2 separate regions of the Homo sapiens genome follow, and region 1 is linked to region 2. The links come from fine-mapping of genetic effects on plasma protein levels. A gene starts in region 2. The other region holds a variant in brackets. All regions are shown on one strand. Distances are between the middles of the regions.

Region 1 (2,893 bases), 26 kb after region 2:
GGATTTGGGAGATGGTGAGGCTGTGCAGTGGAACATTGCCTGGGTGGTGCCCATTGTCCGGGTGTGGGCGTGGATGACTGCTTACCTCTCAGGGAGCAGCTCCCTATCTGTGAAATGGGACAGCACCTTCTTTATAAGGTCTCAGTGAGGGTTAATGAGATCCTATATATGAGAAGGTTTTGGTAA[C/T]GGCAGATGTTTTCATTGCCAGACTTTAGTTGGCCTCGGAGAGCTGATGTCAAGTAGATGAGCCCCACCTGAGGAGCAGCCTGGTCCTTTGCTTTCTGGTGCAACCAAAAAAGCCTGCCTTCTGCTCCCCAGGGTTGCTTTTCCCAGGAGGTGTGAGCCTACCTGGAGGAGGCTTAGGCACAGGGATACCTGCTGGAGGTCTGAGCGTTGGTTGAGCACCTCCTGTTTGTAGGATCCTGTGCCAGAGCCTGTGGGGAGGTGGAGAGAGGCGAGGAGACATAGCCCCCACCCCTGAGGGATGAGACAGCTCCCTGCAGGCAGGCTGTGCCCAGTCATCTCAAGCCTACAGCTGGGCTGCTGGCTGCAGGGTCTGGAGGGCGGTGGGGAGGGTGGCAGACAGAGTAGCAAGACCCCCACTTCCCTGGCCTTCTTCACAGACCTGCGTCATGCGGGCCTGGGACCGCAGCAAGCCCCTGCTCTTCTGCCCGGCCATGAACACCGCCATGTGGGAGCACCCGATCACAGCGCAGCAGGTAGACCAGCTCAAGGCCTTTGGCTATGTCGAGATCCCCTGTGTGGCCAAGAAGCTGGTGTGCGGAGATGAAGGTGGGTGTCTTGCCAGGCTTATAGCCCAGGGCTGTAGAAGGGGCTCAGCTTTGGGGTCATATCTCAGTTCAGTTCCTGGCCTGTTAATGACCTTAGCAAACCATTCTCTGAGCTTAGCTTTCTCAGCTGGAAAATGGGAATCGTAATTCCTGCCTCCAGATTGGTAGGGTAAAATGGGGTGGAATGTGTAAAGTACCTGGTAGAGTCCCTGGCACGCAGCCCACACGCAGTTAAGGATGGCTACTGGAACGAGTCCCAGGGTCTTGCCAGGGGTCTTGGGAGAGATCTGATGTGTCTGGCTCAGGCAAAGACAGACCTTGCCCTCTCAGGCCTTGGGCTCTGGGTGGAGCACTTGGAGCAATGGGCAGGGGTCTGCAGGGCTACAGGCACTGTTGGCCTGTCTGGCCACAGCGGAATTTTGCTCCCAGGTCTCGGGGCCATGGCTGAAGTGGGGACCATCGTGGACAAAGTGAAAGAAGTCCTCTTCCAGCACAGTGGCTTCCAGCAGAGTTGACCTGGGATTTCTGTCATGGGTGTCCCTCTGTACTCAGAATGGGTTCAGGCCAAGTCGGTGAAGATGGATGTTGGCAAAATAGGAGGATACCCTCATTTGCTGAATGGGGGACCTGCTCTGAGCCTGCCCAGGGGCCAGGCCTGCTCCAGGTTAAACTGGACGGAAGGCCCAGGTCTCAGTTTCTTTCAACCAGGAGAGGCCGCTGCCTAGAGCCCCTCCCCACCTTTTCCTGGATGGGTGAGGCAAGCCAGGAGAGCAAGCAGTGTTGTCCTCACGGGAGGAGGACTGAGCGACTGGGAAAACTCGGCTCTACATCTCACCCAGAACGGCTTTTAGAAACACCACAGCTGGAGAGTCCTGGCTGAGCCTTGGGAGTTTCAGCTCTTTGGCGGGGTGCCCAGGTGCCATGCGATCAGCGAAGCCTGCGAGTTGGCAGGACTCTGAGGTTTCCTGCAGACCATGCCATGAGATTGAAGGTGCGGGGAAATAAAGAAAAATCACCATTTAGGAGACTCCATTCTTTCCCTACAACCCAGCTGTGGTCCCAGAGATCAGGGGGTGTTGCCAGGTGTGGCTGGGGAAGGGTCTGGGTTCACAACTCACCGGCACTCTTTAGTCCCCGTATAACATGGTGGTTAAGGATAAAGATCTGAAGCCAGACAGCCCCTAGTTCCAATCCCAGCTCTGCCGCTTACTAGCAGTGGCAGTTTGGTTCAGGACTTAGCCTTCCTGACCTTCACTTACCTCAGCTATCTTGTTATCCTACCCTCAGGGAGTTGTTGAGAGGATTCAGTGAAATTTTGTGTGCAGAATACCCATGCCACTGAGTGCCTGGAACGTAGTAAATGTCAAATCAATGGAAGTTAAAACTAGGCATGCATATATGCCAGAGAGCTTTCCTAGCATTTACTGCAATGCCCTGTCTCATTTTGGGAAAAAGGAAATCCTGGATGCTAAGTTGACACATCCCTTTATGCAAGTGACAGGTAAGCAGCCAGGAGGGTTGACCCTGCCCTGGGTCCCAGGCCTCTTGCCTGCTTCTTGGTTTCCTCTGTTCTCATCCTTTCAGCTTTGCTGGACCTGAGGCAGGGGCCTGGGTGTCTGTGCCTCCCTACCCCCCAGTACACATGACCAAGGGAAGTAGATCCAGAGACACCATGCACTCTGGCCCAGAAACCCTCTGCTACCCAGCTTTTGACTTAATTGCCATTTGGTGTGGCTGCAGCGGGGAGGGCTTGTCTGCGTATTTGGAGCTGAGGCTGAGGCTGGCTTCCTGCCCTCTGGCTTCCAGGCCAGGTGTGAGGGACATCCCATGTGGGCTCTGAGAGCACTGAGAGTAGAGGTGCCTTGAGGGGACCAGGAAGCCTACTGGCTGGAATCAGTGCTCCAGCAGCCTCCACAGCCTTTATCTCAACAGCACTTGACTTCACCAGGTGACCCTTTGGGATAAAATTGCCTTAGGGTATGAAATAAACTATAACTAAAATGGTAGCATCAAGAACCAACTTCTTTGGCTGGTTTGGGGATGGGGCATGGGGAGAACCTGGGTAACTGAAACCCGGAGACGGTCCCAAAAGTCCATTTACA
Region 2 (2,900 bases):
GAGAATGGCGTGAACACAGGAGGCGGAGCTTGCAGTGAGCCGAGATCGCACCACTGCACTCCAGCCTGGGCGACACAGCAAGACTCCATCTCAAAAAAAAAAGACACGGCTGGATCCCTGCGTAAGGGATGGTTTGGCCCAGATGGTCCACTGCGGCTAAGGGCGGGGGTAGAGCAGAGGCCCCACCTCAGCTCAGGGCAGGGGACCCGCAGCTGGTTCAGCCACCTCAATGAATACAGAGGTTCCTGGGGCCTGTGAAGGCTAGAAAATGAAGGGGGCAGGGAAGCATGCCAGTGTGTGTTCTTCTGCCGCCTTCCCTTTGCCCATTTGATGCCTTCCACCTGGATCGCTATTGGGATCCTCTATCTAACCTCCTGGCTGTCCTTCAAGATTCATTTCAAGTCACTCCTTCAAGAAGGCTTTCCTGCCTAGAGGTGTTGCTTCCTCATGGAGGATCTTACCCTGTCATTTTCTGTGTCCCTGTTTGTCTCAAGAACAGGGACGCATCTGATTTATCTCTGTATCCTGTGCACCTAAAATAGAAGAGGCTTGGTAAATATTAAGTGCCACGAGCCCTCTTTTACTAAGGACCTGCCAACATGGGCCCCATTCACACTAATACCATGAAGATAGCCCTTTTCTATACTTCGTCATAAAAAAGTAATACACACACCCGGGCAGCAACTTCCACACAAACAACACATGTGCAAGGAGATCACCATTATTTCCAGCAAAATGCTCCCCAGGGCCGAGCGTGGTGGCTCACTCCTGTAGTCCCAGCACTTTGGGAGGCCAAGGTGGGCGGATTGTTTGAGCCTAGGAGTTTGAGACCAGCCTGGGCAATAGAGTGAGAACCCGTCTCTACAAAAAATACAAACATTAGTCTGGCATGATGGTGCACTCCTGTAGTCCTGGCTACTCCATAGGCTGAGATAGGAGGATGGCTTAAGCCCAAAAGGTGGAGGTTGCAGTGAGTGGAGATAGCACCACTGCGCACTCCAGTCTGGGTGACAGAGCCAGACCCTGTCTCAAAAAAAAAAAAAAAAACAAAAAAAAAAACAGCTCCCCAACAAGATAGCAGGCTACAACATGCATGTGATGAAGCTGATTTGAAGCGCTCAGTGAGAGGTATCTGCATCAAGTTGCAGGAGGAGAAGAGAGAAAGGAGAGATAATCATGTTCCTGAGGTCTCAGCCCTGGATCAGGAAATCATTGAAGTATTAACATATCCTGACATTAAGGAAATGCTGATGTTTTTGGACTTTGGCAGTCTGTCCAACCTGCAGGTCACTCAGCCAACAGTGGGGATGAATTTCAAAACGCCACGTGGAAGCTGTTTGAATCTTTTTGAGATACTGTAATATTTTCAATAAACCTGGGACAACAGCAAAAAAAAAAAAAAAAAAAAAAAGGCCCCAAGCAACAAGCAGTGTGTGTGGGGCTGATAGGAGTGAGGAAAGGAGGTCGGACAGTTATGCCAGCCCCTATCGAGAGTCCCAGCAATACAAAGAACAGGGCCAGGGTTTGCTCCAGGATTTCCCCAGTGGACTACAACTCCCGGAAGGCAGAGAAGTGGACTACAGCTCCCAGAAGGCTGCGCGACATACAGCCAGCCCGGTGCTCTCGTGAGGCGTGCCAGTCAGATTCCGCGGGAGAGCGGCAGAGATACCGCGATATTTGGGAGCGGCCCCGAGACGCGCCTGGCGCGGGTGAGCAGTGGAAGGGGGCTGGGAAGCTGGGTTCTCGCGGCGGCGCGGGAGGGGAGGTTCGGGGAGCTGTGTCCGCGAGCGTGGGTCCACGGCTGTCTGTGTGTGTCCTTATTTTCCCCTGTGTGCCCATGAAGCTCTGTTTGCGACTGTGCGTGGGTAGGCGGCCGTCCATCTGTGCGACCTCACTTTCCCGGCTGTACGGGTGGGGCCGCCTGGAGCAGGAGGGACCCCCGAGCCCTGAGTGGAGGGTTTGCATCTGTACCCGTCCAGCCCGACTTTGTGCTGCTCTGCGATTATTTGTCCAGTGTCGTTTAATCTAGTTTAAATGATGGCCGTGTCAGCTCCTCACACTGAACGCTTACCCGGGCTGCCCAAAGTACAAAGTGTATTTAAAAAGTTGGTAAAATTAAAAAAGGAAAGCCATGGGATGTTGGAAGTAGCCCTAGGCCTGCCAAAAAGTGCTGAGTGCTATTTAAAAATTAGGCCAAATCTTGTCAGAAAAGAACTTCCTGCTGTCCTTGAAGTATTTGGAAGCAGGTGCTAGATGGTGAGCAGGAGAGGTTGCCAAGTTGGGGAAGTGGTGGTTGTCCTGGAGCAGGGGTTTCCACATCTCTCACAGTGGCTGGGAAGTAGCAATTCGCAGTCACTGCCTTTCTAGTAGCCCACGTGTGTGAGTGTGTGTGTTAGATACATTTATCCCTCAGTATCCGCAGGGGATTGCTGTATACTTTTTTTTTTTGAGACAAGGTCTCATTCTGTGACCCAGGCTGGAGTGCAGTGGCAGGAACATGGCTCACTGCAGCCTCGACCTCCTGGGCTCAAGGGATCCTCCTGCCTCAGCCTCCTGTGTAGCTGGAACCACAGGCATAAACAACCATACCCGGCTAATTTTTATTTTATTTCATTTTTGTAGAGACAGGGTCTCACCATGTTGCCCAGGCTGGTCTCAAACTCCTGGCTCAAGCTATCCTCCTTCCTTGGCCTCTCAAAATGCTGGGATTACAGGTGTGAGCCACCACATCACCCTCCTGTATACTCTTTTTTCTTTTCTTTTTTTTTTTTTGAGTCAGGGTCTCACTCTTGTCTCCCAGGCTGGAGTGTAGTGGTGCAATCATAGCTCACTGCATCTTCGAACTCCCTGGGCTCAGATAATCCTCCCACCTCAGCCTCCCAGGTAGCTGGGACTGCAGG

Alleles and levels. Positions count from the first base shown, and alleles are read on the strand shown. Strength reflects both the effect of a copy and how common the allele is.
For the plasma level of the protein whose gene starts at base 1,673 in region 2, C is the high allele of the variant in region 1 and T is the other (moderate association).

What was found. A credible set is the group of variants that fine-mapping cannot tell apart. PIP is the chance, under the fine-mapping model, that this variant and not a neighbour inherited with it causes the effect. Protein levels are from antibody-based Olink assays in UK Biobank. Linkage for the fine-mapping came from a reference panel and not from the study's own genotypes, which makes the PIPs less certain.
Region 1: its variant is the best candidate, but not a certain one, in a credible set for the plasma level of the PPCDC protein (UK Biobank, PIP 0.73).

The regions. Positions count from the first base shown.
Region 1 is chr15:75,047,930-75,050,822 of GRCh38, forward strand. It overlaps PPCDC (phosphopantothenoylcysteine decarboxylase), which reads left to right. Exons shown (of 6, transcript NM_021823.5): 5 at 624-792; 6 at 1,221-2,797. The coding sequence ends at 1,306. Among named protein-coding and RNA genes, the nearest start is that of PPCDC, 26 kb to the left of the region's middle. The variant C/T (reference allele first, on the strand shown) is at 187.
Region 2 is chr15:75,021,918-75,024,817 of GRCh38, forward strand. PPCDC (phosphopantothenoylcysteine decarboxylase) reads left to right here and starts at 1,673. Exons shown (of 6, transcript NM_021823.5): 1 at 1,673-1,709.